Regions from separate parts of the Homo sapiens genome. Here region 2 is linked to region 1. Evidence: fine-mapped QTL for protein levels in blood plasma. A gene starts in region 1. The other region holds a variant in brackets. All regions are shown on one strand. Distances are from middle to middle.

Region 1 (15,661 bases):
ACCCTACCTGGTTTTAATTAATGAGAATTATTGGTCTTGGACAGAGTTCTCCTATCATTGGCTGCTCTCAAGTATAGAAATTGACTGCCCTTGGGTCAGGTGGCCATTTTTGACCTAATCAGATATGGCTAGGGTGATCTGGTTCAGAATAAGTTTATCTGTTTGTAAAGAACAACAAGGACTTATTCCCTCAGTAGATCTTCTGGGTTTAAGAAAGAATGGGGAAAGCTGGCTTTCTGAGGCTGGGGCTGCCCAGCATGCCCCAAATTACAATCATTAATATTTGCTATGTGTTAGAGGGATACAGTGTGGGGTATAGATATAAGACCCTATCCTTGCCCTCATATAGCTCACAAACTAGAGGAGGCAGGCAAGCAGATTGAATATAGAGTAATGGTATTGCTGGAGTTGAACACTTTGTGCCATGGGAACATGCAGGACAAACACTCAGTCTGGACTGGGATTGTGAAATAACCTCCATCTTTACTGAGGTTTCTCTGTTCCAAGTATATGTTAAAGAGAGGAAGTTCTGTGTCACAATGATGCCCTTCAGTATCCTTTTTTTAAAAAAAATCTTGTTTAAAAGTTTCTAAATTAAAACCCAGTGAAGGCATTGAGCATATACTCCTTTACCTAAAAGACATTTTGTTTTCAAGTTTAGGAAGAGTACTGTTCTTTGACTTTCAGGTGTTTTCTCCAGTGAATATAGTGAGTGTGCCAGAATCATTTGATAAGAACAGTTACACTACCTGTAATCTGAGAGATGTGGCTTTGAAACTGGGCTGACATTTAGGGAGCACTTCCTTGCCTGTCCTCCTTCAGAGTTCTACTACTCCTTCATTTCACAGCAGTCCTAACTACTAATTGTTTAAGCTCCCTCTTTCATTCCTGGAAATCTTGATTACATGGCAGGGAGGACTTCTCGCAATCCATCATTCTAATGGAATCTTCAATGAGGATATATATGGATGAGAGAAGCCCTCTGGAACACTATGCTTTATCCATGACTATTGATTTCCACCATTTGCTTCAAACTTTCATCTTCTGCCACTGTCTTGCATACTCTTCTTTTCCAGTCAATTCTCCAGTAAAATCTGTTCCAGACAATAGCTTGAAGGTTGGTCATCGGGCCTGAAGGCAATATACACCACCCTGCATATTAGCACCCACTGAGTGAGAGTATAACCCTACTCTAGATGACCATCCAATGCTGAAGATGATGATGCTATTCTTGGTATTTCGATTCAGACCCAAGATGAGCCTGAGAGTTTGTATCCATTTGAGGAAATTCTTAATCACCTAAATATCTCTACCAATAGTGTTCATCATTAAATACTTGCTGTCTGGCACATAGTGCTTTTTTAAAATTATTTTTTGTTCAATAAATGAAAGCAGTTTTAGTGGATCGGTTCAAGAGGAGTCTTTGTATTAGCTTTGTTTAGTGTGGAGTTTGGAACTGAAGAAGCATTTAATAATTAACATTTTAAAGTGTAGACTACGGTATATCAGACCTTTCTGGAACACTCCCTAGACACTGAAATGCGGCAAAGACACTGCATTGGAAACCTCCGAAAGAGTCTGTATCCTTGGCCAGCAGATGGCATTCTTATACTATAGTTTAGAGAAAGCAAGTAGCAAAAGGTAAAGAAGCACTTCTTAATGATGAAGTGACCATCTACCTCCTTTTTCCCTTCCCCATCACCACATAACCTTATCTCACTTCCATTTTATCCCAGGCAACTATCTTTTCCATCCATCCATTCACCCTTCTTTAGGTGCCTAGAGATGTCTTGCTACCATTCTCTCTAGTTGCTCATAGGAAAATATCTTTTGTACTTATTAATAGTCAATCCATAGAAATAGGACAAGCCACATAATTTTCAGGGCCCTGTGTAAAATGAAAATGCAGAAGTTGTTCAAAAAGTATTGAGAATTTTAGGACAGTAAGAAAAGAGCATTAAACCAAGCACAGGGCCCTCTGAGCCCACACAAGCCATACACCCATGAAACCAGCCATACTTTATAATGTAAATATTTCCCTCTTCCCATCCTACCTTCCATTGTTCTAATGTCCTGTCCCCTGTGACCCACACCAAAAAGGCTGCTTAAGAAAGGAAGGAATCACTAAATGTCATTCAGACATCATAGAATCTTAGCACTGAAAGAAAATTTGGAGATCTAGTTCAATCCTCTCATTTTAAAGATGATTAAACTACATTCCAAAGAGATGAAGAGACTCTCCCAAAGTCCCCAGCTAGTTATGTCACAGACTGGACTGGAACTAAGTATTCTCATCTACCAGGCCAAGGCTCACTCTCTCACGCAGACTCCATGAGAGGTATTTTAAGAAAAGAGTTTTCCCATCTACTCAGGATATACTTTGCCCCATTTTCTCTAGAGGAGAAGGGTACATGTTTATGTTACATTTGAGTACCAGGTATATGCCAGGCATTACACTCGATGTTTTATACATAATACCTCAATTGCAACAAGCTCAGAAAATCATTACATTTTCCCCATTTTTCAAATGAGAAAAATAGAGAATCAGAACTTGAATTTTAGTCAGTAAATGGGCAGACAAGAATTTGGGCAAGTCTGTGATTCTAAAACCCATTCTTTTTCACCACATCATTCCTAAATTTTAGGAAAGCTGAGTCAGCCTGTGTTTCCTGAACATTGGTCTTGTTTTTGGTCAGCTCTGGGTGATTTGGGGACTCTTTCCAGGCTATGTTCTTCAAATTTACCAGGTTTGCTACTGCCTTGGTGTCTTTGCTCCAGGGTGTTTCCTCTGCTTGAAACACTCTTCCCCCAGATATTTCATGAAAAACAGGACCACGTGTTGGAGAGGTAACAGGGCATCTGATCATATAGGGTCTTACAGGTCATTGTAAGAACATTGGCTTTTTCCTCTGAGTGAAAATGGAAGCCATTGCAGCAGTTTGAGCAGATAAGCGATGTGATCAGATTTAGATTTTTAAAGGATCCTTCTGGCTGCTGTGTAGAAAAAGAGACTAAAGGGGTGGAGTAGGGAAGGTAGAAGTTCTTGGGCTTTTTAGAGAGTTGTAACAGTAATCCAGGAAAAAGATAATGGTGGCTCATACTAAGGTGATAGCAGTGGAAGTGATGGGAAGTGGTTGGATTCTGGAGTTATATGTGTATGTAAGTACTATATTTTTAACTTCTTGTTATGGAAAATCTCAAATACATACAGAAGTACAGAGATGAATATAATGAATTCCTGTGTTCCTATTCAGTGAACCTATCATATGTTATTATGTGTCAGGCACTTTGCAACAGCTGCAAGAATTGCCAACTTGTATCAATCTTCCTCCCCAACCCTAGATTGGGGAGAAAGCAATTTGAAGCAAATCCCAGATACCATATTGCATGTGTAAATATTTCAGCTTCTACTACTCCAACTGCTTCTGACTGCCCCGACATTCTGCTATCTACCCTATGGTTACTGCTTGTTCATAGTTTCAGGTACTCATGACTTCTACTTATTGTCTGCTCTATTTGTCCTCTTTAAGCCTTTTTCCTTGCTATCAACTACTAACTGTGTACTTCTCAAATTCAAACTCCCTAGAAAGAGGTTCTTGCAGGTTCAGTTAGTTGTCATTTTTCCTTCTACACAGAGCTCATGATCTGGCCAAATTGTGGTAGATTGGCTGCTCTTGGGTCAGGGACCCTCTTTTGGCCAAGCAGGGTGGTGTAATGACAAGGTTGGTTTTCCCGAAAAACGGTTGTTGAAATGGAAGTCACTTAACAAATAATAGGCTGTTCTCCAATACTAATAAATAGTGGAAATTTAATTCTAGAAAGGATATAAATGGTGAAAAAAGTCAGCCTGCAATGAGACTAGAAATAGATAAGTGTCTAATCACTCAACACCATTATTTTACAGTCTGACCTGACTCATTTAGAGTGCTATTCTTGGGTGCCACTGAGGAATTAAGGACATTTTTTTTCTTAATATATTTTTGTTTATAACAGGCTGAGTAATAGCATAGATCATAATGATCTAGGCTGAAAGTCAAGACCTACATTTAATTCTTCTGTTCATCATGGACTTTGTACAATATTAGACAAGCTAATAAACTTCTTTGTGCCTTTGTCTCTCTCAGTTTTTGTATTGAGATTAATACCTGCCTTTTCCTGATTCATATATGGTAGACACATAAGATTAGAGGGATAAAAATACATTGAGCTTTTATGAAGAGAAGCATGTGAAAATCTAAATAATTACTATTTCCTATGTGAAGATTTTTATGAAATTATAAAATGAACATAGATTTAAGGTATTTTTATATAAATTTAAGGAGTACAAGTATAGTTTTGTTACATTGATATATTGCATAGTGGTAAAGTCTGGGCTGTAACCATCACCCCCTGAATAATGTACATTGTACCCATTAAGTAAATTATCATCGCCCCCTGCCAACCCTCCAACTCTTCCAAGTCTCCAGTGTCTATTATTCTACACTCTGGTGTGTCCATGTGTATACATTATTTAGCTCCCACTTATAAGTGAGAACACGCAGTATTCAGCTTTCAAAGATTACATACTCTCTATTCATTTTCATCAGGTACTCAAACATTTTTCTTCCTACATTTTAATATATATGTCATATGTATATACCACTTAGAACAGTGTGTGGCAAGTAGTAAGAACTATGTAAATGTTAAGCTGTTATCTACATCAGTGTGAAAAAGAATTTGTCAAAAGTCTATAGAGTTGCAGCTGCAAATGCTTAAAAATTGTACCCCCTCTCCATCCCCTAATATGTACCCTGCTAAAATACAATTATGTGAAGCACATAAAATTTTACGTCATGTGAAAATATGAATAAAAGGAAACTTTTTGAGCCCTGGAAAATTGGCAATGTATGTGTTTATGTGAAAAAACCCACAACAACAAAAAAGAAGGGGGTGGTTAAAAATAACATTGATAACTGATATCTCCATTGTTCTCAAAGACAAGTTAGTGGACAGGCTGCATCAGAATCACCAGGAAATTTTCTAGAATTCTTGGTTCTATTAGCGATTCTGATATAATAGAATAACAGTGGAGATTAAGAATGCAGAAATTGTTTAAGTTTCTCAGATGATCCTGATTTTCAGCCAAGCGTGGGAATGACTGATGTGTACAAAAATGTAATACAATAATTTAATTTAATGTAGTACATCATTTATTTCCTATCATCCTATTCAAAGTGGTATGTATTGGGAAATATCTGCCCCCAGGGAAGAGAGCTGAGAGGATATCTATCAAAATCAGAATGGCAATTATCTCTGGATTATGAGTTATGGAAATACTTATTTTACATTTGTGTTTCTTATTTCTAAGTTTTCTGGTTGAGCATATATTATTTTTATAATAATAGATATTACTTACAACCAGTGCCAGAAAATTATTCACAACCAGTTCAAGATGTTAAAGACTCATATGCAGCCTATGCTTTTAGTTTATCAAATGTAAAGAAAAAAAACAACTTGAGAGGCTGAGGCAGGAGGATTGCTTGAGGCCAGGGGTTCAAGACCAGCCTGGGCAATATAGCAAGACCCCATCTCTAAAAAAAATAAAAAGAAAACAAAACAAAAATTAGCTGGGCACTGTGGAATGTACCCATAGTCCTAGCTACTCAGAAGCCTGAGGCAGGAAGATTGCATGAGTCCAGGAGTTTGAGGTTACAGTGAGCTATGATCTCTCCACTACATTCCAGCCTGAGTGAAAGAGTAAGACCCTCTCTCTACGAAAACAGTCTGTCAATTCATATTCACATACTTTTTCTTTTAAAAGGCAAGGCTACATATAAAGCAACATGGACGCAATATTTATTTTTGTTTTTTAAAATGTCACAAATTCTTTTAGTAAATATATATCTTAGAGAATATAAAACAAATTAAATCCTAATTAGCTTTTACTTCTTTTGCTTTGGCATGAATGGAAATATACCAATGTTTATAAAAGGACCAATCAATCAGTAACCTTATACTTGATGGGGTGAAATAAATAGTTCTGGTACAATATAGATCTTCTGTCCAATTTGTATTTTGGACTGTGCGCCAAGAATAATGCTCAATCCTTTTTAAAGATCCTTTTGGCTTCTACTCCTTCATATACATAAGTCTGAAAGGTGTTAACAAACAGAAGAATTTATCTTTAAGGTTTACATCTAAGTTAAGAAAAAGTAGTATTATAGTTTTATACTATATGAGTTTATACTATTTTTATATTATATATTCATATATATTATATGAGTATGAGTTTATACAATTTTTTCTTGTACTTGATAGCAAGATTTATACAGATATGGGATACAGCCATTTTAAAACACATGTTGGTTTGTAGTCATTTATATTTTCAGTTAAAATAGGCATTGATTATTTGACATATATAAGTTGTCTTTAGTAAATAGGCATCAGAAAATAGCTATACAATATTTTTAAAATCAGTAAGATTTATGAGAAAAGAAGTAGTCAGTTTACTGAAGATCTGGCTCAGCAGTGACAAAAATTATTGTTTTGTAGTAATTTTTGCCTTTTGAAAATAGCTATAAATTTGACAACTCACCTGGACTAGTTCATCACCTATAATTTCTCGGACAGTATTCAGTTCGTTTCCATTGTCTGTCCGTTTGAATTTTCCAATAAGTTTATTTCCCTCAAGGCTCCAGGTCCCCTACATAATAATAATAATAATAATAATAATAATAATGGCATTTATTAGGGTCTTACACATGTCAGGCACTGTTCTGAGTTCTGTAGACACACTTTTTCATTTAATCTTCATGGTGACCCTATGAAACTGATACTATTATCTCTACTTTGCAGAAGAGGAGACTGTAAAATGGCACAGTGATTCACCTAAAGTCACAGAGTGAGGATTGAACCTAGGCCATTGGGCTACAGAGTATGTGTTGATAACCATTATGCTTGTTCTCTTCAATAATTTCCATACGCTGAATTTTAAGGCAGATGAGCAGCACTTCTTTCTGAATCTTTCATGTTACGTGTCCAGAAATATAGTCATGGTTAAAATTAGTTTCATGGAGATGTTAACAACTCTGTGCTTGTTTTAATTTGTGTGATTGTGGTACTAATTAAAGAAAGACATAACTTATGATAAAACATTCAGTAGTTAAATTGTCATTACAAACATGTAATTTAAATAGAAAAATGTTGAGGCTAAAAAAAGTTTTTAAAAAATTTGTTGAAAATGATGACTTCCTAAAATGTGTTATCTTAAACATGAAAAGGTACACTCCCAATGACCTACAATACATCAAATCTTTCCATTTGGTAACTCACTCATTTGTTCATCTATTCATTTCTTTTATTATTTCAACATGTTAAATTGCTATTACAGTTAAGTTACATATTAACTCTAAAGGCTTCTTTTGCTGTACTGTTTAAAAACACAGTTTTAAATTTCTTTATGAATAGGTCTATATTCAGTCATTCAAAAGATAGTTTTCTAATTCTTACTGTTCAATTCAGATTCTTCACAGATGCGTATAAAAATAAAAACATATTTAAATATCCTGCCAATTTGTGCAATATATAATGTAGACAAACTTCATTGGCTTCTTCAGTTAGTGAAGGAGACCTGCATTAATTAAACCATCCAATGAAATAGAGCAGAAATCATTTTAATATTGGGTAGAAAAATCAAGAATGCATTGCTCATAAAAAAAAAAATTCTTACCCTGAGTTCAGTTCCGTCTGCTAGATTGTAATTAAAGGTGACACCAAGTTCAAAAACAACTTCAATGTTTCGAAAAGTGCTTGATTCTTTGACTGTGAATTTATTTCCTTCTTGTGTAATTGTCAGCTTCAAATTGTCATGAGCTGCAAGCTTCCTTTTCACTATATTAACACCTGTAAAAGGTAAGACAATGGAGAAAATAAAGTCAAATCCCATAGGAAGTGTTTATTTTTCCAAGTTATGTTTTGTTTGTTTATTTTGAGGGTGGGAAGAAAACTCGGTAGCATTGCCTTTGCACAAGAACATTCAGATTGCTTCTACAGAAGTTCAGGTTCAATCAGATCAAGAGAACTGATTAAAGTTGTTTTTCCATAACTTGAGAAAAATTAAGTAGAGTACAGAATTATAGAATCTTAGAGCTGAGCAACCTTAATAAGATTAACAAACTGTTCATTTCAGTGTTAAGTAAATCAAATTCTAGAAATATCAAATGAAGGATTAAAATGTATATTCATATATTTATAAGGAAGCACATCTTTAATTCCACATATACAGTATTCTTTTTTCTTAAATGCCCCTTTGTTTTTCTTAGTGGCTTTAACATTTTGAACTTTATAGTTCTATTTGCTTCTTGTGGCATTTCTTTCTGACACAAAAATGAGAAAATTAGCAAATATTAAGCCAAAATCACTATAAGAATCTACAACTTTTATAAATTTAAACTTAGAGTTCCTAAACTGTAAGCTATAATTGATGCAGATTTTTCTTTTAGGGGAATGACACAAATTTGTTTGCCTATCTTGTATAGTATATGGGCTGCCAGAGTATTGGTATCAAATTATAAATCAGTTAAATTAAACGCCCTGGAGAAAACTACACAGCTTCTCAAGATTATTCCAAAACTTTTTTAAGTTAGAAGAAATCAGAATTAAATCTAACTTATTCAGCGCTATAAATTTTAAGAGAACCTTTTCCATTACTTTCTTATATGGTCTTTGTTTTTCCATCTCCTAGAATTTAACATTTTCAGATCTGGAAGTTATCATTACACGCTGCCATTTTCTTACTGTAAACAACAAAAAAAGTCATTTTTCAGTTAAAGAGGGAAGGAAACATTTCTGGATCTTTTTGGTGTGTTTCAGAGAACAGCACTCAAAGAATCTTTTCTTCCATTAGTGAGATAGTGGATTCTTCCTAATGTAAGAAGGGAGAATATGGTTTCCCTCCTCTGAACATCTTCTGGATCCTCTCTACCACATCAGGAGCTATCTGTAAGCTATCTGTAATCTCCTAGAGATTTAGGAGTTAGAAAGAAAAATGTTTGTAAGAAAGCAAAGAATGAGCCACAAAGAAATAAAGTCTTTACCCATTTTTTCCATGAACTTGTCATAGTTTTCACTCCGGTCTACCTTCCAAGTGCTGTCAAACGCCATGATTTCAGTTGAGTCAGCCTCTAGGCAGCTAGAGATTCAGGTCTGTCCTTGGGCGAGAATTTATTATATTTCTTATCTTAGAACCAACTTCATACTGTGATGTGGAAGCTTAAAGTTCAGGAAATCACCTAACTATGTCAAGCAATTAATTAATTCTTATTAATTAATTCTTAATTCTCGTTCTGTACATTCCTGAGATCTTCTGAAATTCAACTGAATTAAAACATGAGAAGCATACCTATTCTGTCTTAAATTACAGTTTGTGGGCATACTTATTTCAAGAATTAGAATGCATGCCGTCTGAAGATTGTTTTTCTAAGTTCAAAGTGCAGACTATGTTGGAGGTAATATAATTTATAGCATATATCAAATAACATCTGGGAAATGAGACCATGACCTTTCCCTTTTTCACAACAGCAATTATCTTGTAAAGTAAGACTTTATGATGAAATACAGTTGAAAAGTTAAAGTTAATAAGATTCGTTTTCTAATATGTCTTTTTGCATTGTGTTTAGCATTGCCAGGAGTTTGGATAAATATCCTGGCACTTTGTAGGGTGCATGACACACAATAAGTGCTCATTGATTTTTGTCTTGATCCTGAATGGTGATAGGCCACTGAGCAAAAATTCAAGAGGTACAAATGAGGCTGGATGGTGTAAAAACTTGCATAAAAGAAAGAATGAGCTTTAAACATCTGCCATGTGCAGAGAGAACAAAATCCAGTTTTAGCTGTGCCATTAATTAAAACCACTCCTTCATTTTACTCTCAATGCCTCTCATCCCCAAACCCAGTAGAGTCAGAAGCCACAGCTCAATTATGTATGTAGGGTCAGGGTATAGAGGGTAGCTAGAAAGGTACAAAGAAAAGGTCACCATATCTCTCCTTTCCCTACTTCAGGCTGCCAGCCAGGAACAGGCCAAGCTTGGGGAGGAAACTTGGTGTGAAGTAAAGAGTTTTAATTACTAGTCTTAAGATGTTTATTACTAAAATGAGTCTATTATTGTGACTGAATGTGACCAGATAACATCTTATTAACTAAGGGTCAGGAAAGAAGCTCTAGGGCTTGCCCAAGATATTACTTAGGGTCAAGGGAAGATAAATCTAACAGATTTGAACAGAACTTTGGGGAACAGAATCCCAGTTTTTAAATTTTGATATTATTTTATATTTTGATTTTTAAAAATCTTTTAAACATGTTAGATATTGTTTGATTTTTTATTTCGAGTTGCCCACTTTTTATTTTATTAAGTAAGCACTTTAAAAAGCAAACTATTTTCTACTAGCTCTATTATTTCATTAAAAAAGAAAAAGAGGCCGGGCGCGGTGGCTCGCGCCTGTAATCCCAGCACTTTGGGAGGCCGAGGCGGGCGGATCACGAGGTCAGGAGATCGAGACCATCCTGGCTAACACGGTGAAACCCCGTCTCTACTAAAAATGCAAAAAAAATTAGCCGGGCGTGGTGGTGGGCGCCTGTAGTCCCAGCTGCTCGGGAGGCTGAGGCAGGAGAATGGCGTGAACCCGGGAGGCGGAGCTTGCAGTGAGCCGAGATCGTGCCACTGCACTCCAGCCTGGGCGACAGAGCGAGACTCCGTCTCAAAAAACAAAAAAACAAAAAAACAAAAAAACAAAAAACAAAAAAAAACAAAAAAGAAAAAGAGTTGCCTGGTGCAGTGGTTCTTGCCTGTAATCCCAGCTATTAGAGAGGCTGAGGCAGGAGAATCACTTCAGGCCAGGAGTTCGAAACCAGCAGTTTGAGGCCAGCCTAAGCAACATAGGGAGAGCCTGGCTGTAACAATTATAATAAAATAAATTAGCCAGGTGTAATGGCACATGCCTGTAGTCCCAGCTACTTGGGAGGCTAAGGCGGGAAGATCTCTTGATCCCAGGAGTTGGAGATTGCAATGAGTTGTGATCATGCCAGTACACTCCAGCCTGGGCAACAGAGAGATCCCATCTCTAAAAAATAAATAATTTTTTAAATGTCAAAAAAGGAAAGAAAACACATATACACACTCATGAGTTGGGGACAAAGGTCATAATGGGAAGTCCTTTACATTCATAATTTAGCTTTACTTTCAAAATTAGGTACATTGTGATTTTTTAATCTTTTTTCAAAGAATTAAAACTGTATCACTTGGGAGCTATCAACCTAATACACTTTCTTTCTTTTTTTATTACACTTTAAGTTTTAGGGCACATGTGCACAACGTGCAGGTTTGTTACATATGTACACATGTGCCATGTTGGTGTGCTGCACCCATTAACTCGTCATTTAACATTAGGTATACCTCCTAATGCTATCCCTACCCCCTCCCCCCACCCCATAACAGGCCCCGGTGTGTGATGTTCCCCTTCCTGTGTCTAAGTGTTCTCATTGTTCAATTCCCACCTATAAGTGAGAACATGCGGTCTTTGGTTTTTTGTCCTTGCGATAGTTTGCTGAGAATGATGGCTTCCAGCTTCATCCATGTCCCTACAAAGGACATGGACTCATCATTTTTTATGGCTGCATAGTATTCCATGGTGTATATGTGCCACATTTTCTTAATCCAGTCTATCATTGTTGGACATTTGGGTTGGTTCCAAGTCTTTGCTATTGTGAATAGTGCCCCTATAAACATATGTGTGCATGTGTCTTTATAGCAGCATGTTTTATAATCCTTTGGTTATATACCCAGTAATGGGATGGCTGGGTCAAATGGTATTTCTAGTTCTAGATCCCTGAGGAATCGCCACACTGACTTCCACAAGGGTTGAACTAGTTTACAGTCCCCTCAACAGTGTAAAAGTGTTCCTATTTCTCCACATCCTCTCCAGCACCTGTTGTTTCCTGACTTTTTAATGATTGCCATTCTAACTGGTGTGAGATGGTATCTCATTGTGGTTTTGATTTGCATTTCTCTGATGGCCAGTGATGATGAGCATTTTTTCATGTGTCTTTTGGCTGCATAAATGTCTTCTTTTGAGAAGTGTCTGTTCATATCCTTCGCCCACTTGTTGATGTGGTTGTTTATTTTTTTCCTGTAAATTTGTTTGAGTTCATTGTAGATTCTGGATATTAGCCCTTTGTCAGATGAGTAGATTGCAAAAATTTTCGCCCATTCTGTAGGTTGCCTGTTCACCCTGATGGTAGTTTCTTTTGCTGTGCAGAAGCTCTTTAGTTTAATTAGATCTCATTTGTCAATTTTGGCTTTTGTTGCCATTGCTTTTGGTGTTTTTAGTCATGAAGTACTTGCCCATGCCTATGTCCTGAATGGTATTGCCTAGGTTTTCTTCTAGGGTTTTTGTGGTTTTAGGTCTAACATTTAAGTCTTTAATCTATCTTGAATTAATTTTTGTATAAGGTGTAAGGAAGGGATCCAGTTTCAGCTTTCTACATATGGCTAGCCAGTTTTCCCAGCACCATTTATTAAACAGGGAATCCTTTCTCCATTTCTTGTTTTTGTCAGGTTTGTCAAAGATCAGATCGTTGTAGATAAGCAGCATTATTTCTGAGGGCTCTGTTCTGTTCCATTGGTCTATATCTCTATTTTGGTACCAGTACTATGCTGTTTTGGTTACTGTAGCCTTGTAGTATAGTTTGAAGTCAGGTAGCGTGATGCCTCCAGCTTTGTTCTTTTGGCTTAGGATTGACTTGGCAATGTGGGCTTTTTTGGTTCCATATGAACTTTCAAGTAGTTTTTTCCAATTCTGTGAAGAAAGTCATTGGTAGCTTGATGGGGATGGCATTGAATCTATAAATTACTTTGGGAGGATGGCCATTTTCACGATATTGATTCTTCCTACCCATGAGCATGGAATGTTCTTCCATTTGTTTGTATCCTCTTTTATTTCATTGAGCAGTGGTTTGTAGTTCTCCTTGAAGACGTCCTTCATATCCCATGTAAGTTGGATTTCTGGGTATTTTATTCTCTTTGAAGCAATTGTGAATGGGACTTCACTCATGATTTGGCTCTCTGTTTGTCTGTTATTGGTGTATAAGAATGTTTGTGATTTTTGCACATTGATTTTGTATCCTGAGACTTTGCTGAAGTTGCCTATCAGCTTAAGGAGATTTTGGGCTGAGACGATGGGGTTTTCTAGATATACAATCATGTCATCTGCAAACAGGGACAATTTGACTTCCTCTTTTCCTAGTTGAATGTCCTTTATTTCCTTCTCCTGCCTGATTGCCCTGGCCAGAACTTCCAACACTATGTTGAATAGGAGTGGTGAGAGAGGGCATCCCTGTCTTGTGCCAGTTTTGAAAGGGAATGCTTCCAGTTTTTGCCCATTCAGTATGATATTGGCTGTGGGTTTATCATAGATAGCTCTTATTATTTTGAGATATGTCCCATCAATACCTAATATATTGAGAGTTTTTAGCATGAAGGTTGTTGAATTTTGTCAAAGGCCTTTTCTGCATCTATTGAGATAATCATGTGGTTTTTGTTGTTGGTTCTGTTTATATGCTGGATTACATTTATTGATTTGTGTATGTTGAACCAGCCTTGCATCCCAGGGATGAAGCCCACTTGATCATGGTGGATAAACTTTTTGATGTGCTGCTGGAGTTGGTTTGCCAGTATTTTATTGAGGATTTTTGCATCGATGTTCATCAGGGATATTGGTCTAAAATCTCTTTTTTTGTTGTGTCTCTGACAGGCTTTGGTATCAGGATGATGCTGGCCTCATGAAATGAGTTAGGGAGGATTCCCTCTTTTTCTATTGTTTGGAATAGTTTCAGAAGGAATGGTACCAGCTCCTCCTTGTACCTCTGGTAGAATTTGGCTGTGAATCCATCTGGTCCTGGACTTTTTTTGGTTGGTAAGCTATTAATTATTGCCTCAATTTAGGAGCCTGTTACTGGTCTATTCAGAGATTCAACTTCTTCCTGGTTTAGTCTTGGGAGGATGCATGTGCCGAGGAATTTATCCATTTCTTCTAGATTTTCTAGTTTATTTGCGTAGAGGTGTTTATAGTATTCTCTGATGGTAGTTTGTATTTCTGTGGGATTGGTGGTGGTATCCCCTTTATCATTTTTTATTGCATCCATTTGATTCTTCTCTCTTTTCTTCTTTATTAGTCTTGCTAGTGGTCCATCAATTTTGTTGATCTTTTCAAAAAACCAGCTCCAGAATTCATTGATTTTTTGAAGGGTTTTTTATGTCTCTATTACACTTTCAACTTGGAGGGAAGTAGAAAACTTTGTTTAAAGCTGAGGACTCAACAGTCTCTCAGGTAGTTGACTGGCTGTGGTGATTTGTGAACTCAGAAGCCTATGGATAATGAATCCAATCTTTATTTCTAGGTCAGAAAACTACATGTATCTGGTCACTGAAATAAACGTATGGTAGAGTGAAAAGAACATGTGTTTTAGAAACAAGACCCATTGACTTGGGTTTCAGTGCTGACTAAACATACATTACTCTGCAGAATCTTCGTCACATTACTTACTCAATCTCTCTGAGCCTCAGTTTTCTCATCAATAAAATGAAGACAATAATAATACCTGATATGTATATTTTATGAACAAATTACATAAAGCACCCACCTGAAACAACTTATAGATAACAGGTCCTCAACAAACCTTTGTTTCTCTCCTAATTCTCTGAGAAAGGAAATCTGGGAGCAATAACAATGTTTTAGAAGCATCCTAGGTCTCAAACCAGTGATATTTTGTTAAGAAAACCCATGTCATTCTGGTGTTTATGAGAAAGTCACCTAAAAGTTACTTAGGTATTTTATGATTTGCACTAGTGATCAACTTGGGACTGGCTATGCCTTGGATTTGCCTGTTAAGGATAGTATTGCACTGTATCACCCTCTGGGAATACATGTTTCCACTATGTGATCTCATAGCAATTGAAATTAAAGTGTCTGATTCAAGAAGGAAGGTTGGCAGGAAGAAACTAAAGTGGCTTCTTACCATTTTCACCATGACCTAACCCGTGTCTCATGGCCATTTTAAGCTTCGCAGAAGGATCCAAATAGGATAAATATAAAGCAAATAGCCCTTGGGCTCACAGAAGGCTGGTAACAAAATAAGCATGTTAAACTTTCAGTCTTAAATTTATCAGTGGCAGTGACCTAATTTAACCTTAGGTAGGACATCCTGTTATCTCTGTTAAGTAGCATCATTAGTTTTTTTTTTTATTAATGCTCAGATTACATTTTTAACATTACACTTTTCCTTCTCCAGCTACCCAATTCTGTAGCCCCTCGGTTTTTATCACTTATCTGTAGTCCATCTAGAAAATAATATACGGAACTTAGGGACCAATTTCTCTACAGACCTTTTCTACTGATGATATGATTGAGCCAACCAGCTAAGGGCAGACCCAGCCCTTTCTTTTCCATTTTGATAATATTAAAAGACTTGAGTATTGCAGTTTGGGGGTCGTGAGTGGACTAAGTATATGTGTGCATGTGGATGCAGATGCTATGGAGGTAGAGCTATAGCTGTACCCTCTCTCTCTGGGCTCTACAGTCAACATCACCCACGGAGTGGTCTGGAAGAAGTGGAAATCAGCAGAAA
Region 2 (15,661 bases), 38 kb after region 1:
TCTATCCAAGGTTAATTCTGCAAGTTTTAGTGAACTGTGGGACTGGTGGGTAAGGAAGAGGAGAGAATCAAGGATGACTCTCACTCAGGTTTTTAGTATAGGTGTTTGTATGGATAGCATAATGTAGCTTCAGAGTTCTGATATAAGCTCAGAGTTATGTGATCAAAACATAAACAAGAAACTATAATCTCTATAGAGACTATGGGAGGTTACAAATGGTAAGGATAAACTATGTACAGTATCATTGGATAGCCTAGTTTATTTTCTGTTTGTTTTAAATAGGACAGAGTCTTGCTGTGTTGCCCAGGCTAGTCTTGAACTCCTGGGCTCAAGTGATTCTCCTGCTTCAGTCTCCCTAGTAGCTGGGATTACAAGAGTGAGCCACAGCACCTGACTCTCATTGATAGTTTTTAAAATGCGTTAGCAATCAGAAATCTCACAAAGCCATACTGTTTAAAGATTTCCTCTGAAAACACAGCAAAGGGCAAAAACTAAGGTAATAATGTAACAACTGGAATTAGATATAAATAACTTTTACAATACTCTTTAGTATGGGCTTTGATTCATAGTAATTAGAATTTTTAAACCATTAATACAGTCATGGGCACATTTTTTGTTTTTCTTACTGTTTTTGTAAATTAATATAAAAATATTAAAATGTTTTCAAAACAGTATATAATTGAAATTGAATTTATTGGAAGCAGATACAGTTTTCTGGGGAGAAAAATAATCTTAAAAATGACAAATATTTGAACTAGCAAAATGCATCTTATAGCAATACCTTAAGAACTATAATATTAAAAACTGTTTGGCAGAGAACTAATTATTTTTCAGTCATACATGTAAATTAAAGTCCCACTTGGTTTTGCCTAAGGTAAGTCACGCTTAACTGAGTACTGGCTGTTTGGCTTTGTGCTCATGTGGCCCCAGGCCCTGAAGGGCTTTGCATATTATTGGGGCTCTGTAGGTGAATCAGTTATGGCCTTTGTCTCAAGTCCAAGTGGGAATCACCAGAATGTCTTAACTTTTGGCACAAAAGAGGCTTCAGTTTATACAGACTATCAGTTTATACCCCAACTATTCACAGGATCCAGCAAGAATAGGATAGAGGAAGGTGCCTTATATGTGGCTGAAGACTTATTTTTCTGTATTCCTTGACCTTCCTTTTTCCCCCTTTCTGTAAGCACGGGAAAAACATTTGCTGTAGCACCAGACATACAACTCAGTCCCCTTTCATCCTGCTATGTAGGTATAGGTACATCTTTCTCATTAACTCTCCTACTTCCCTTGTCATACAAAGAGATGTTTTTCTTCCTGGGAAGTAGCAGGGTAGTTTTTTGGGATATTTTAGCTCTGAGGTGAACAGCTTCTTTCTGAGATCTTGTCAGAGATAATCTCCAGGGAAGAACGCGGTTAAATGTACACCACTATTGTTATTTCTCTTCTCCCAGGGTTTTGTTTACAAAGGAATTTTGTGTAATTATGATTTCCCATAGACTTTTCTGATAGTTTATGGTTGCTGACAGTGCATTGTATCAGAAAAAGAAGTGAGCTTTCAAGAAATCTTGAGGCTATGTTATGGTTTAATAAGAGATGCTGGGTTAAAGTGAAGATGATGAATAGTGGCACGTTCTCATGCTTCTTTTACCTTTGAAACTTAGTGAATTCTAGAGCCAAATCTTTTTTGCCCATGGCCCTCAGCATTATTCTTGGACTGTCCTTTTAGTTTTTAATTGAATCCCTCCCCACCCGCATTCAATTGCTTGTGTCTCCATGTATCATAGTTCACTTATGTTGTCACACCTCGGTGCTTAAACTTGCCTCCTACTCTCCCCAAGTCTCCTTGGCTTAGGGACCATCCCTTCTCTTTCCTCCTTCCCTATTTCTTTTCCACAAGTGGGTATTAGGAAGAAAGTCTTGTACTGTTTTTTTAGCAGGCAGTTTTGTGGAAGGATACCTGGTTTTAGTAATAAAGCTGGTATGGAAATGACTTCAGCGTGAAGTTGCTGCAGTTAACAAACAGGAACTGAATCTGAGGTAGAAGATCTCTGTAATAAGCTTTGCTATTGACTAACTCTTTGTTATTATTGTGATCCCTGTTATGCCTTGCATTCTCTAAGCATCATAGGTAATTTGTTTTCTCGTTGTCTCTGGCATGAGGATTGTGACCTCTCACTGAGGGTGGAGCCTCTGTGTCTGGTGCAGGCTATGCATGCCCCGGCAGGCATTTGTGTGTTTGTTGAAGGAGTAATGCTAACCAGGTGGGTCCTTTTCAGCAGCTGTTCATTGCTATTAGCCAAAGGCAGTAACATCATTACTCTTCTAGTCATGACTAGAAATCCATAAAGACAACAAATGCCCAAAAGCAGGGACAGCCTCAGCTACTGATCCTATAGCCACAAGAATAGTTCATGCAGCTGGACATATGGCACGTTCATTGTTGTGATATGATTTGCAGGTGCAAGTGGGTAACAAAAGTACATTTTATGATTTGCTCAGGTAAGCGTTTGGAAGAGGAAGGGGAGTGTTTTCAGCCTGCAAAAAGTGGCTGATTATGCTGCCTGTTGAATACAGTGAGTGGCAAGAAGATGTATCAATGTGCATTGGCACTGGAACTTCCACAGCAGTGTCTTGCTGTAACATCACTCTTATTCCTTTGTGTTTTAGGTGAGATGAGTGAGAGCCGAGCAAAGAGAGTTAGAATAAAAGAGGTAGATGGCTGGACCCTGAGGATGCTAATTGATTACGTTTACACTGCAGAAATTCAGGTTACAGAAGAAAATGTACAGGTAAGAGTAAACACTTCACACCATCTAGCTTTTTATGCATACAGTTTTTTTTAATAAAAAAAGCACACCCACACAGTATACATTTTTCACCAAAATAATAGGATTCATTGTGAAAATTGTATTTCTAAAAAATATTTGGAATGATTACACCTTTTTAGTAATGTTTCTGAGTTCAGTATCTTTTATATTCTTTAAGATCTGAGATACAGATCCTTTAGTTCTCTGAATGATGCTTGTTCTTTCATGAAAACACTGTCATATTCATTTATAACTGTTCATTGATGCTGCCCACAATTTCTCTTTATTCCTTGGAAGGATATAGTCTACAAAGAATGTTTTTGACTGCCAATATTCTTTCTGTCTTTTTTTTTTTTTTTTTTGATACCCAATCTTGCTCTGTCTCTCAGGTTGGAGCGCGGTGGTGTGATCATGGATCACGCAGCCTCGACCTCCTAGGCTCAGGGAGTCCTCCCGCTGCAGCCTCCCAAGTAGCTGGGACTACAGGCATGTGCCACTATGCCCAGCGAATTTTCTTATTTTTTTTGTAGAGAGGTCTCACTATGTTCCCCAGGCTGATCTCAAACTCTTGGGCTCAAGTGATCCGCCCTCTTCAGCCTCCCAAAGTGCTGGGATTATAGGTGTGAACCACCATATGCCCAGCCTATTCTTTGTTTTACTATTTGAGCATCCTCTTTAAGTGATTCTGGAGTTTAGGTAAAAGTTGATATTGCATCTTATATTCTATAAAGAACAAATGTTTTATGTGTGTTACATAAATGTTTAAATAATACAGATGGATGTGGAGTAAAAGGTGAAAATCCCTCTTCAGAAAATGGACCTTCTCTTCGATACCCCAGTTCACATACATTGATTCACTTCTTCCTCTCTAGAGGGCAGCTTCTGTTATGTACTGTGAATCCCTTCAGACCATTTTCCATGCATTTATTCACACAAACGTACACACAATTGTTTTACATAAGAAATACTATACTTGTTCTGAAACTTGCTTTTTGAACTGAGCAGTGTCTTAGGGGTCTTCACACATTAGTGTATATGGGTCTAACTCATGTTAATCAGCTATATATATATATAGTATGATTTTTTCACCTGTATAAAAACAGTGCAATGAGTGGACATTTTTATATTTGCATCCCCAAATTTTATAAGCTGGATTCCTCAAAATGGAATTGGTGAATCAAAGAGTACATGCATATATTAATTTTTTGATAGCAATGCCAAATTGCCATCTGAAAATGTGTGTTTATTTATATTCCTTCTAACAGGGACACTGTGTTTTGAGGACAACAAAAATAACTAGGACTAAATTCTTAAGAAATAATCTTTAAATTCTACTTGCACAAATAGGAAGTTGTTGGTTCAATCCTTATCCCTGCTAACTAGTTGAAATATGCTACAAAATGAATTCGGAGACTGAAATCTTTGCACTTGTTAAGACATGCTATCGATTGTTCCATGTGAAATACTGGCAGTAGTAAGGCCTCCTGGTGATCTTTCCCAGATGGCCTCATTAGCTTTTGCTTAGAAGTTCCAGTTATGAGGTAAGGCATTTGAAAAACCTTGGTCAATATTGGAGTTGTTTCTAAATGTATGCATCAGATGCTAGATGAACTTTTTTTTTTTTTTAACATGGAAGAAAGTGTTTGGTATATGTCATGAGATCACTGAACTAATACGTCATCTCATTCTGGTCTTTTAGGTACATTTAGACTATTTGCTAGATTCTGGGGCATTGTTTTCAACAAGAGTTTATCTTAGTTTCTTTTTGTTCATTCTTTTTATTCATTTTAGTGCATGGGCCTCATTATGTCCTTATATTTGACCTTCAACAAATGAATTACTGATTTCTTTGATTCACATAATGGGCCACATGGGAAAAAATTGAGAAAAATCCTTTAGGCCTTAGAGACTAAACTGTGTGAATTCAGCCCTGAATGTTGTTTGTAGTAGTTCTTGTGGTGGGGACATGGGCCTATTAGGAATTAGGAGAACGCCTCTCATGTTTCTTTTAATAACTATCATGTTCCAGTCCTGAAATATTAGTCATCACAGCCTTTCAGAAAACTCTTGCCATCCTAATTTGCCTCTTGTGTATATATTGCTTAGCTTTTAGAATATGCAGGAATACATTCTAAGAGTTACATTTGGCAGGCTTATTAAATGCTTAATATTTGTATAGTTTTGTTTTGTTTTTAAGAGGGAGAGGGATATCTCTTCAGCATAGGGCTATCATGGTTTGTAAAGCTTTCTTTTATTTTCAATTGAAAAATACTTGTTTTGGAAAAGGCAGTTGAGAAATAAATTAGATTAAAAGTAGCTACTTTTTCCATGACATGTGTTTTTCAATGAAAAAAATAAGACTATACCATATAAAGATACACCAGACTCCTATTTCCTGCTTTGTGTATTTTTTGTCAATCTATATTTTGTTAAATCTTTCTTGTAAAGTGTTGTCCACCTTAAAGAAGAAGGTGTCTGTTGTTATTAATGTTAAGCTGAAGTTTTAAGTGGCCCTAACTGGAAGCCGTGCTCTGAATTTATATGCCCTGAAGGTGCTGACAGTGGGAACAGAAGTTTCTGTAATTCAAATGTTTCTTGGTGGTGGTATATTTTTCTCACTGGACCTAGACTCAAATCTTTTACCAGGTGACCTCCCTTTTGTAAGTTTCTGTTTTAGTAGTAAAGTACAATATTGGGCTAGAAAGTATCTTTGGGATTGCATGTTTTGGTGTAGAATCATTGTGCTGTGGAATGCTGAGGTCCAGCCATCTGTTGGCAGTCAGTTGGCGACAGAACAGGGCTGTAACCCTGGTTTCCCAGATTACTAGTGTAGGGTCTCTTCCATGATACCATATGGTCTCCTTATTACACTAATTTTAAACAATATAATACCTATTTGAAGTGAAGGTTGTTAACTTGGAGTCAGAATGAGAGAATGAGTAATTTAAAAAATTAACTCCAAACAAGGGACTATTGTTATTATAGTCCCTTCTGATTTATACAAGCAATAGGGCTTGAATTCTTGGCCATTCCAGGTTTCCTAGCTTTTTGTGTGTTTGTTGCTGCTGTTGTTTTTTTGTTTGTTTAGGTTTTTAAACTTTGGCTTTATGTTTGGATATTTGGTTTTATTTATGGCAAAATTGGAGGATAATTTGAGCTAAATGAATTTACAGTTTTTTTTTAAAGGGAGATAAAAGGAGAACCAATATTTTACCTATGACTACACTTGTAATTCAACTTTTTTGTTGTTGTTGCTGTTGAGTGAATTAAAATTTAACTTGTGTCTAGAGTTTCAAAGCAAACTTTATGAACTGCATAAATCTGGGAAATAGAGAAAATACAGCCAAAGGCTATTGAAAACTATGCTCTTTGACATTTGGTGGTTATGGACACCTTTGAGAATATGATGAAAAACTGTCAACCCTTTTCTAAGGAAAGGGCACATTAGCTTATCTACACAAAGTTTTGCATACATTTTCAATACACTTTCAGAGAATCCGTGTACCTTGCTGCTTGCCCCACCTTCCACTGTTAAGAATACTTGGCTTTATTTTTAAATTTTTAAATTTTTTTATTTTATTGAGACAGAGTCTTGCTCTGTTGCCCAGGCTGTGGTCAGTGGTGTGATCTTGGCTCGTTGCAACCTCCGCTTCCCAGGTTCAAGCAATTCTCCCACCTCAGCCTTCCAAGTAGCTGGGACTACAGACATGCACCATCACGCCCGGCTAATTTTGTATTTTTAGTAGAGATGGGGTTTCACCATGTTGGCCAGGCTGGTCTTGAACTCCTGACCTCAAGCAGTCTGCCAACCTTGGCCTCCTCAAGTGCTGGGATTATAGGCATGAGCTACCACTCCCGGCCAAGAATACTTGGCTTTAGGTATAAAAAATATAAATATGTAAGTGTGTGTGAGTCTGTGTGTGTATGTGCATGTATGAAGGATTTTCACATGGGTATATCTCTAGTTATATGCTAAGCATTTTATATGTAGCTCATTTGATGTTTTTGCCTCCATGTAAGATAGGTGTTACCCCAATGTGATTGAAGAAATAGGTTTAAGAAGGTTAAATAATTTGCTCAACGTCACACAGCAACTATTAAATCGTCATTAACTAGTATTGCTTACAAAGAGAGTTTATAAATTCAAAAATGTAAATGTCTTTATAACTGAAAATTTTTTTTCACGATCCAAAAATTATTCAAGGTACATGCTATGTCATTAGATGTGTTAATTAACACTTTTGGAGAATCCTAAAGGATCTTGAACTTCTTAAAGCATTTACTTCATTGCTAAATTTGTAGTTTTGTTACATGAGTTTGACTTCTCCGCCTTTGGGTATTTGTTTTGGCTTCCTAAAAGTAGGTAAGAGTTTCTCACTTGATGTAAGTGTTAAAAACAAAGGTAATGCTGTTAATAAACAGTGCCCATGAAAGTAAATGCTCTCATTCCTAAATTAATATTATGAGTACTCATCTACAGATTCTTTCCATATTAGAACTGTTATCATCTAGAAGAATTTGAGAAACATCTGACAGTTTTGAATGGATAGGTTTTAAAAAGTTCATGAAATATATGTTGGATGAATTGGAATTATTTGAGACAGACACTTTCTATCTCTTTAGAAATGAAACAAAATTTAAATGAGAGTTTTTCAAGGGACATCTAAAATCAGTTATTGGTAATAAACAGACTAAATGTTTAACACAGTCTCAGTATAGTAGAAAATTCAATATAGTGCGTCCATTTTATTGGTGGTATAGGGCAGGTTGTTGTTGTTTTGCTTCAAACCAGAACTGCTAGGAGTATGCTGTATAGATAGTGTTTTACTCTGCATGTTCCCAAAAGGAGGACATCACATGGAGGGGCTTACATGGTACCAGGCCTGTTGACATAGTTGAAAAAGCTTTAAGTTAGCTTAATCAATAAAAAGCCAGCCAAAGTAGGGAAATCACCAAAACAGAATACATGTGTACCCTAAATATTTTAACCTCAAACATGTAGGTTTACAATTGTATTCCAATCTTTGTTTGTAAAACTAAGTATGGTAAGCTGTTTCAAGAGCCACATGTCCTTTTTTGCACAAACCATACCATAATCATGCACCAACTATAATTTCCAGGCTTTTTTTTTAAGTGCAGCAAGAACTGAACTTGAAATCTCAAGGCAAAATCTTCTTTGAATTATACAGTTTATCTTTCATTCCTCCCATGT[C/T]TAATTGGATTGAAAACATTTATTTTTTTTTTTCCAGTAACACGTTGATCAAGCCACTCCAAAGCAGCCAACTTAGTTTTCATAGAAAGAGCTCTTTTTACATTCACATTTCATTGAATTCATTTACTTAAATTGTGTAATTTCAATAAGTGCAAGTGTCATAAACAGATGTGGGAGCAAATCCAACATGTATGAATTGGTAAAATGCATCCCAGCTGGAGGAGCAGACGTGTGCAAGCACAGTAGAGTGTAGTTACTGAGGGCATGGAGAGAGTTGGTTCATCAGGTGAGTAGGTAAAGTGGATTTTGGTGAAGAGTGCTTTTGCTTTGTGTATTTCTATATTGTGTGGGTAAACATTGAAATGAAATTCCCAGTAGGTGGAGATTTGTTTTAAAAATCTGTCTTAAAAATATTTAAGACACCCCATCAGTTAAACAGTCATTGATGGAATTTCTGATAAGTACTCGGTCCTGGTGCTACAAAAAAAAAAAAAAAAAAATGAACAGGGAACAAAGTAATGAATAGAGTATATACTTAGAGTGGGTTTGGATCTTGGCTTTGCTGTTTAAATGCCATGTGACCTTGCCTAAGTTGCTTAACCTCTGATTGGCATTGGAGCTTGAGCCAGAGATGAATAGGGCTAGGCGTAGGAGCACTGACCTGATGGAGCAAGCATTCAACAAGTATTTTTTTTCTGTTTGTGTTTGTGTTTGTGTTTTTTTTTGACATTTTCAAAAAATAATTTTAAAACTGAGGGTAGGCTGGGCACAGTGGCTCATGCCTGTAATCCCAGCACTTTGGGAGGGATGCCAAGGGAGGCGGATCACCTGAGCTCAGGAGTTCAAGGCCAGCCTGCCCAACATGGTGAAACCTCATCTCTACTAAAATTACAAAAGTTAGCCAGGCGTGGTGGTGCACACTTGTGGTCCCAGCTACTCGTGAGGCTGAGGCAGGAGAATCGCTTGAACCCGGGAGGTGGAGGTTGCAGTAAACCAAGATCGTACCACTGCACTCCAGCCTGGGCAGCAGAGTGAGATTTCATCTCAAAATAACAATAACAAAAAAAACTGAGGGTAGCATGCAGTCCGAACTGAAATGTTTAGAGGTGAGTTACAGATTCAGGTCTGAATGAGATGCTGCAGAGAGCCTGGCAGCAGGACTTTCGTGGTGTTGGTAGTGGTGGTAGCATATACTCTTAGGCTGATGGCAGTGCCTTTATCCAGGAAGAGCTGCCCTGGGTGAACACTCAAGCCTATAGCTCTTATGTTTCTGGCTTGTCTAGAAAGAGACTTGGTAAGGGCTGGGCAATTGTAATGACCACAACCAAGTAATTTTGAGATTGTGGAGGGTCTGCATTCCCGTAGGAAACTGGGCAACAAACCCAGGATCTGGGGCTTGTTATGTGGGGCATTAGGAGTCACGCTGTGGCTTGGCAAGCATGAGGGTACTTGGGGGAGCACATCACGTTTAGGGCAGCAAGATTAACGCCAGACTGTAAACACTGATATGGTGCCCAATAAGCTTTGTGGTATTGGTCAGGATTAGTTTAGGACCGAATTGAACTGCACTTGAAGATCTAAGATTTGTAAGACCTGTAGCTGGATCAGGCCAGATCAGGTATGGATGAAGAACCACTTTACTGCTTTTTATACATGGCTTACCCTTTCCCTTCCCTATATCTAAGCTGTTGAGCTTACCTCTTTTTTTCACTGCCAGTATTGATCCTGATGAATTTCATCTTTCAATCAATAGTTTACTAAATATTTATGGGGTATCTATTCTATGCCAGACACTGTTCCAACCATTGGTGTTACAATGTCAGGCAGGATAGATAAGGTCCTTGTCTTGAAAGGCTTTACATTGTAGAGGAGGGGTAGGGACGAGACAAATAATATACCCATAGATAGAGAAACAGGTGAATTTTACCTGTTATTCTCTGGGGAGGGGTCGTTTGAGCAGAGACTTGAATGAAAAGAAGGGAGTGATGTAAAAATAAAGGCAGAGAACATTCCAAGCAGAAAGAGCAAAGGACCTGAGATGTGAATAAGTTTGGCGTGTTTTATGGGCCAGAAAGAAAAGGGCGATTATTATTTGAGCAGAGTAAATGATGAGAGAGTGGAGAAAGATGAGATTAGATTAGAAAGGTAAATAGGGCCAGACAAAGTGGGTTTGTAGACTATGATAAGGAGGTTTGATTTTGTTCCAGTTGTAGTTTGGGCAGGGAATTCATGCTTTAGACAGTTTGTTCCCCTTTCCCATCTGCTAGCTGGAGGATGGACTGTGGGGGCAGTAGAAGAAGTTGGAGGCCCTTTAGATACCTGTTGGGGTAGGCTAAGTGAGAGACTAGTGGCTTGGGCCTGGGTTGTTGGCGTGAGATGGTGAACAATAGATTTGGGAGATATTTGGAGGTAGGGCCAATGGAATTTACTAATGGATTTGCATGACGGGATGGAGGAAGGAGAATGATCAAGAATGGCTCCTGCATTTTTGGCCTGAGCAACTGGGTGGATTATAGTGCTGTTGTCTGAGATGGTGAAGACATGGGATGGGGACATATTTTCGGGGTGGTGGGAATTAATGGTTCTATTTTGGTTATGTTAACTTTTACCAGTTGGGCTTACAAGTGGAGATGCTGAATAGGTTGGTTCTGTGATGGGAAGGGGTCAGGTTAGGGAGGTAGATTTGATGTATTGGTGGCATATTGAAGTGGATGAGGTCACTTTAAGAGGTAGTGTAGACAGAGAAAGCAAGCAAGCCAAAGACATAATCTGGGGCATTCCAGATTTTAGATGAGCAGATGAGGGAGATGGAGTACTGGTGATGTAGGAGGAAAAGCAGGTGTATGTGGTGTCACAGAATGCTAGTTCTAGAGAAGAAAGTGCTTCAAGGAGACAGTGTTTGGCTGTGTCAGATGTTCTTGATAGGTCAAGTAAGTGAATTGAGCCATATCAGTGTAGGTGTCGCTACATTCGTTTGCCTGAGACAGTCCTATTTTATGCCTGCTAATCTGGTGTCTTCTCTGATTAGTGTTTACTTTACTCAGAAATGTTCCAGTGTGGATGATGAATTATATGGTCCCACTGGTCATTAGTGACCTTGGGAAAAGCTATTTAGAGGTGATGGTGAGAATGAAAAGTGGTTTGGAGTGGACTAAGAATAAGTGGACTCAGAGAGTACCGAAAGTTCTTTCAATGCCCTTTGCTGTGAAAGGGGAGAGAATGTGCTGGCTGAAGGGGATGATGAGTTTAAGGGTGTTTTTGTTTGTTTGTTTTGTTTTGTTTTTTGATGGGTAATATTTTAAAGCATTTTTATGTTAATTAGAATAACCTAGTAGAAAAGTGAAAGTTGATGTGATAAAGGGGAGAAAGAAACAAAGGGTATAATTGCAAAAGTGAGAGAGGTTGCCATCTAAAACAAAATGAAGGGGCTTACCTTAGATGGGAGCAGGAAAACTTCTCTGTTAACCAGACAGAAGGCAGACTGTGTTGTTGTCAGATACAAGTTAGTGGCTTGGATGGTGGAAAGGTAGGTATTTTATCAGCTTGCATATAATTATAAAGGCTGTGGCAAGTAATCAGCCAAAAGGAAGATGAGGAAGAAGGATGCTGGAGATTTGAACTAAAGATGATAAATCATTGTCTTGCAAAGGATGAAGATGAATTTACTAGTGAAGTGTAGTCGAATTGTCAGGCCATATTGAGAGCTCATTTGAGATTTGCAGTCATAAATATCAGGTAGAATGGTTGTGTGATTTTCTTCAGCCATGTTATACCACTTATACTTAGTATAGAGATGATGAATGTGTTAGCTATTGCCACAAAAATGCCACAGAACAAAGTATGCCAAAGCTCAGTGGCTTAATAAAAAAATCATTTATTCTTATGGATTTGCAGATTGGCTGAGGATCAACTAATCTAGGCTGAGGTTGGCTGGGTGATTGGCTCTACACCGTGTTTTAAAAATTATTCTGGAATAAGAAAGTCTAGAACAAGACTACATGAGTGGGTAGCTGAGAAAAAGTGGAGGAGGAAGTGGTAGTTGGAACTCAGGAAACCGAGATGTTCTATTTGGATGTTTATGTCATCAAAAATTGTCAGAAGTTGTGGTGGAGAGAACGGTGATTTAGGTTTTAAAAAGTTCTCTCTCTCGTGTGTTTGAGTTAGCATGACGACAACACTCTGGGGTGATTGTAGTACCATACTAAATCTTTGATTTAGAACCACCTGTTCCATCTCAGTATATTAGATGAAGTTGGCCAAGTAAAAAAAGTCATCTGTAAATGAGTAGGAGTGACTGAGGTGTCGTTAGATAGTCCCAATGAGGAAGGTGAGCAGACATGTGCTTCCAAGGAGCAGGGGTTTTTGAAGAAAGGAGAAAGGAAGTAGCAATGGGGAGCTGCATCTCCAGGCCTTAAAGCAGCATTTTTGTTTTTCAGGTGTGGGTGGTGATCAACTAGTGGGTCAAGAAATAAACTTAGTAGGTCATTATTAGCATTTAAGAGAAAAATTAGAGCCAAGAGTAGGAAATGCTATTCAAGCTTAAAGTCTATTTCAGAAGAAAATAGCAGATCCTAGCAAGTCTGCATGTTTTGTGAAACTTTGAGTTCTAGGTTGTGAGGTAAAAAGTCTTACTATGTAGTGTGGTCAAAAGAATTGGAAAATTCAGCTATAAGTTACTTGGAGTGTGAGAGAGAAAAGTTTCATGAATAGTAGAGATGTGACTGAATATATGTTATTGATTATGCATAAATACAGTGATTTTTATGTTATTTGTGTATATATTTTATTTTTCTAAACTGTATTCTTTAGCATGCATTTCTAGCATGGAAATACCCAACAGATGACTAATAGATGTTGACTGCTTAGATGTCAGGAAGACATAGGTACTCAGTGGTAATCCAGAAAGTATACTTTGTTTTCTATGCTGGCTTATGGTGCAATTCCTGGAACAGGGCACAGAGATTCAGATGGACCTGCTTGAGATGGTGAGCAATGAAGGTGATGTCACAGTAGGGGTTAGACATCGCTTGCCCAATCTATTTCTTGGCTTTGCAGGTCTAGAAACTATTTTGTTAGCTCTTTCAGAGTTGATCAGACTTTTGGGAAATAGCTCAGAGTAGCCAAAATCAGAAAACTAATACATGAACCAAAATGATCTTAAACTAATTTTCAGCGGGTAACAGGTGTTTCTAGGGACTGTGTTTACATTATCCGGTGTGCATCATTCTCAGGATCTAGATACCTAAGTGATAGAATTAGTAATCAGAGCTTCATTGGGTGAGCACAAGGAAAGGGAATTTACTTCAAAGGGATAATGGAAAGTCTTACCAAACTGGCATCCCACTGCAAAGTATACCTTTCTAGTGATTTGAGTATTGATTACATACTGTGAAACCCAATGTCTCCTTACCTTTCATGGTACTGGGAAAACTCTGACAAATAATTGCTCTTTGGATAACCCATTTCTGAATTTTTTTGTAATCTGGTAGTTGTCTTTTTCTATCCCCAAGCACTTGAGGATGTGCCAAACTCCACCAGACACAGTGATTCATTGACACAGAGATTCTCAACTAGAGGGCAGGGTGCCCTGGTATTTTTAATTCTTATTTATCTCCTTGTGGAGATTTAATAATGTGGACCATTTTAAACCTCATGTTAAAAATAGTTTCTTCTGGCTGGGTACGGTGGCTCACGCCTGTAATCCCAGCACTTTGTTTGGGAGGCTGAGGCAGGTGGATCATGAGGTCAGGAGATAGAGACCATCCTGGCTAACACAGTGAAACCCCGTCTCCACTAAAAATACAAAAAATTAGCTGGGCGTGGTGGCGGGTGCCTGTGGTCCCAGCTACTAGGGAGGCTGAGGCAGGAGAATGGCGTGAACCCAGGAGGCGGAGCTTGCAGTAAGCCGAGATCACCCCACTGCACTCCAGCCTGGGCAACAGAGTGAGACTCCATCTCAAAAAAAAAAAAAAAAATAGTCTGTTCTGACAGAGACTATCACTATATATTTGATTATGTTTTGAGCTTTGTTACAGTCATATTCCAGATCTGCTCCTCCAACACTGCCCTCCACCCATTTTGAGTGGATGACCATGCTTCATTCATAGCCACACATCTAGAAGTTGCCAAGTAGCAAGGTGTTCTGTAGAAAGCTCATCTTCAAGGTGAACAGAAACATCTACTGAGCAGTTTTTTAAAATGTTGTTAATAATTCCTCAAGGTAAAATCATTTGAATTACACGTATAATGCTGCATATTTACATTAATGTGGAACAACTCAGAAATAATAAGGAGCCCTTACGTTGGCTTTCTGCTAGTAAACTTCATGGCCCAGTGGACTTTGGCTAATTATAGTATTAAAATTCAGAGCTCAAATCTTGAATTTATTACTGACTTCAAGAAGAGCCTTGAGTAAGATATTAACCTTTCCGTTTCTCAGCTATTAAATGAGGCCAACAGTGCTTTGCCACTGCATTGAAATGGTGTAAAAATATAACAGTTAAAGCTTGCAAAAATATCTAAATGCTCTATAAATGTTGAGCAGAAATAAGAGATGGGCAGGAATAAAAAGACTTAAGACCAAGAAAAAGAATAACTCATTAAAATTATTTGGGATCACTGGGTAGAAAATAGCTCATATGACTTTTCCTTCCCTCTTTATATTCTGAATCAGGTCATATAAAAAATGTCCCTAATTTGCTATAGAGTTCTCTCCCTCTTGTGCATTTGAGTTGGCATGGAGACCACACTTGGGTGATTGTAGTACCATGCTAAATCTTTGATTTAGAATCACCTGTTCCATTGGTTTGACATGCAGTGATTAGAGCAAAAGTTATGTATCTCCCAGCAGTGTCTATGGAAGGCTTATTGCTTTTCCATTTCTGTTTTCTTTCTCTCATGGGATAGAAGTCCTTTGTGAGTAAAAGGGTTTGGCAGATGATGTGCTTGGAAAACACAGGTTAAAACTTAAAAAAAAAATTACATAAATTCCTGAATCAAACCTTCAGGATTAGTGGTTGTTTATGATATAACCATGGGTACTTATATCATTGTAATGAATTTATCTGACATTCTAGCACCCAGAAATCAGTTACCTTGATATTTTATCACTTTACCTGGTTAGTACTAATTTATTATTATCCAGAGGCATAAAAATTTAAATTATTTACCATTTGAGTTTTGATGTTAATTGTATTTTATTATATTTTAAGTCTGAATTTGGTAATCCTCATAGTTTTAATCAAAATATTAGACCAACTAGAACATCCAGTCTCCATTCTAGTTAAATTATTTTTATTCAATATAAGAATATAGAATTAAAAAAGTCTTATTTAAAATTTAATATGGAATGGCCATTGAGGTCAGCTAGTTTGAGAAAACCTAGAAACCTTAGTATAAGAGCGTCTTATAAAACTAGGTGGATACGACACCCAAAGTGGTTTTTAAAAAATTTATTGTTCGGAGCAAGGCTAGGTACTCTAGAAGCATTAGTAATTGAGTTACTTGTGGCTTTGTATTATTAAAATATATGGTCCTTGAAGATGTCTCCACGGCTGAATCATTTTGAGATTCACGTTTTAAGTAGTTTCATGTGGTACATAAAAGGCATTTATCTTGATGAACAAAAAAATGACTCCATCCT

Direction of the effects. Positions count from the first base shown, and alleles are read on the strand shown. Strength reflects both the effect of a copy and how common the allele is.
As copies of C replace T in region 2, the plasma level of the protein whose gene starts at base 9,177 in region 1 goes up (moderate association).

What was found. PIP is the chance, under the fine-mapping model, that this variant and not a neighbour inherited with it causes the effect. The UK Biobank Pharma Proteomics Project read protein levels with antibody pairs (Olink). The fine-mapping took linkage between variants from a reference panel, not from the people measured, so its PIPs are less certain.
Region 2: its variant is fine-mapped to the plasma level of the FABP2 protein (UK Biobank, PIP 0.98).

The regions. Positions count from the first base shown.
Region 1 is chr4:119,312,962-119,328,622 of GRCh38, forward strand. FABP2 (fatty acid binding protein 2) reads right to left here and starts at 9,177. Exons shown (of 4, transcript NM_000134.4): 1 at 9,075-9,177; 2 at 7,709-7,881; 3 at 6,575-6,682; 4 at 4,289-6,130. The coding sequence starts at 9,141. The coding sequence ends at 6,080.
Region 2 is chr4:119,351,443-119,367,103 of GRCh38, forward strand. It overlaps the pseudogene KLHL2P1. Among named protein-coding and RNA genes, the nearest start is that of FABP2, 37 kb to the left of the region's middle. The variant C/T (reference allele first, on the strand shown) is at 8,020.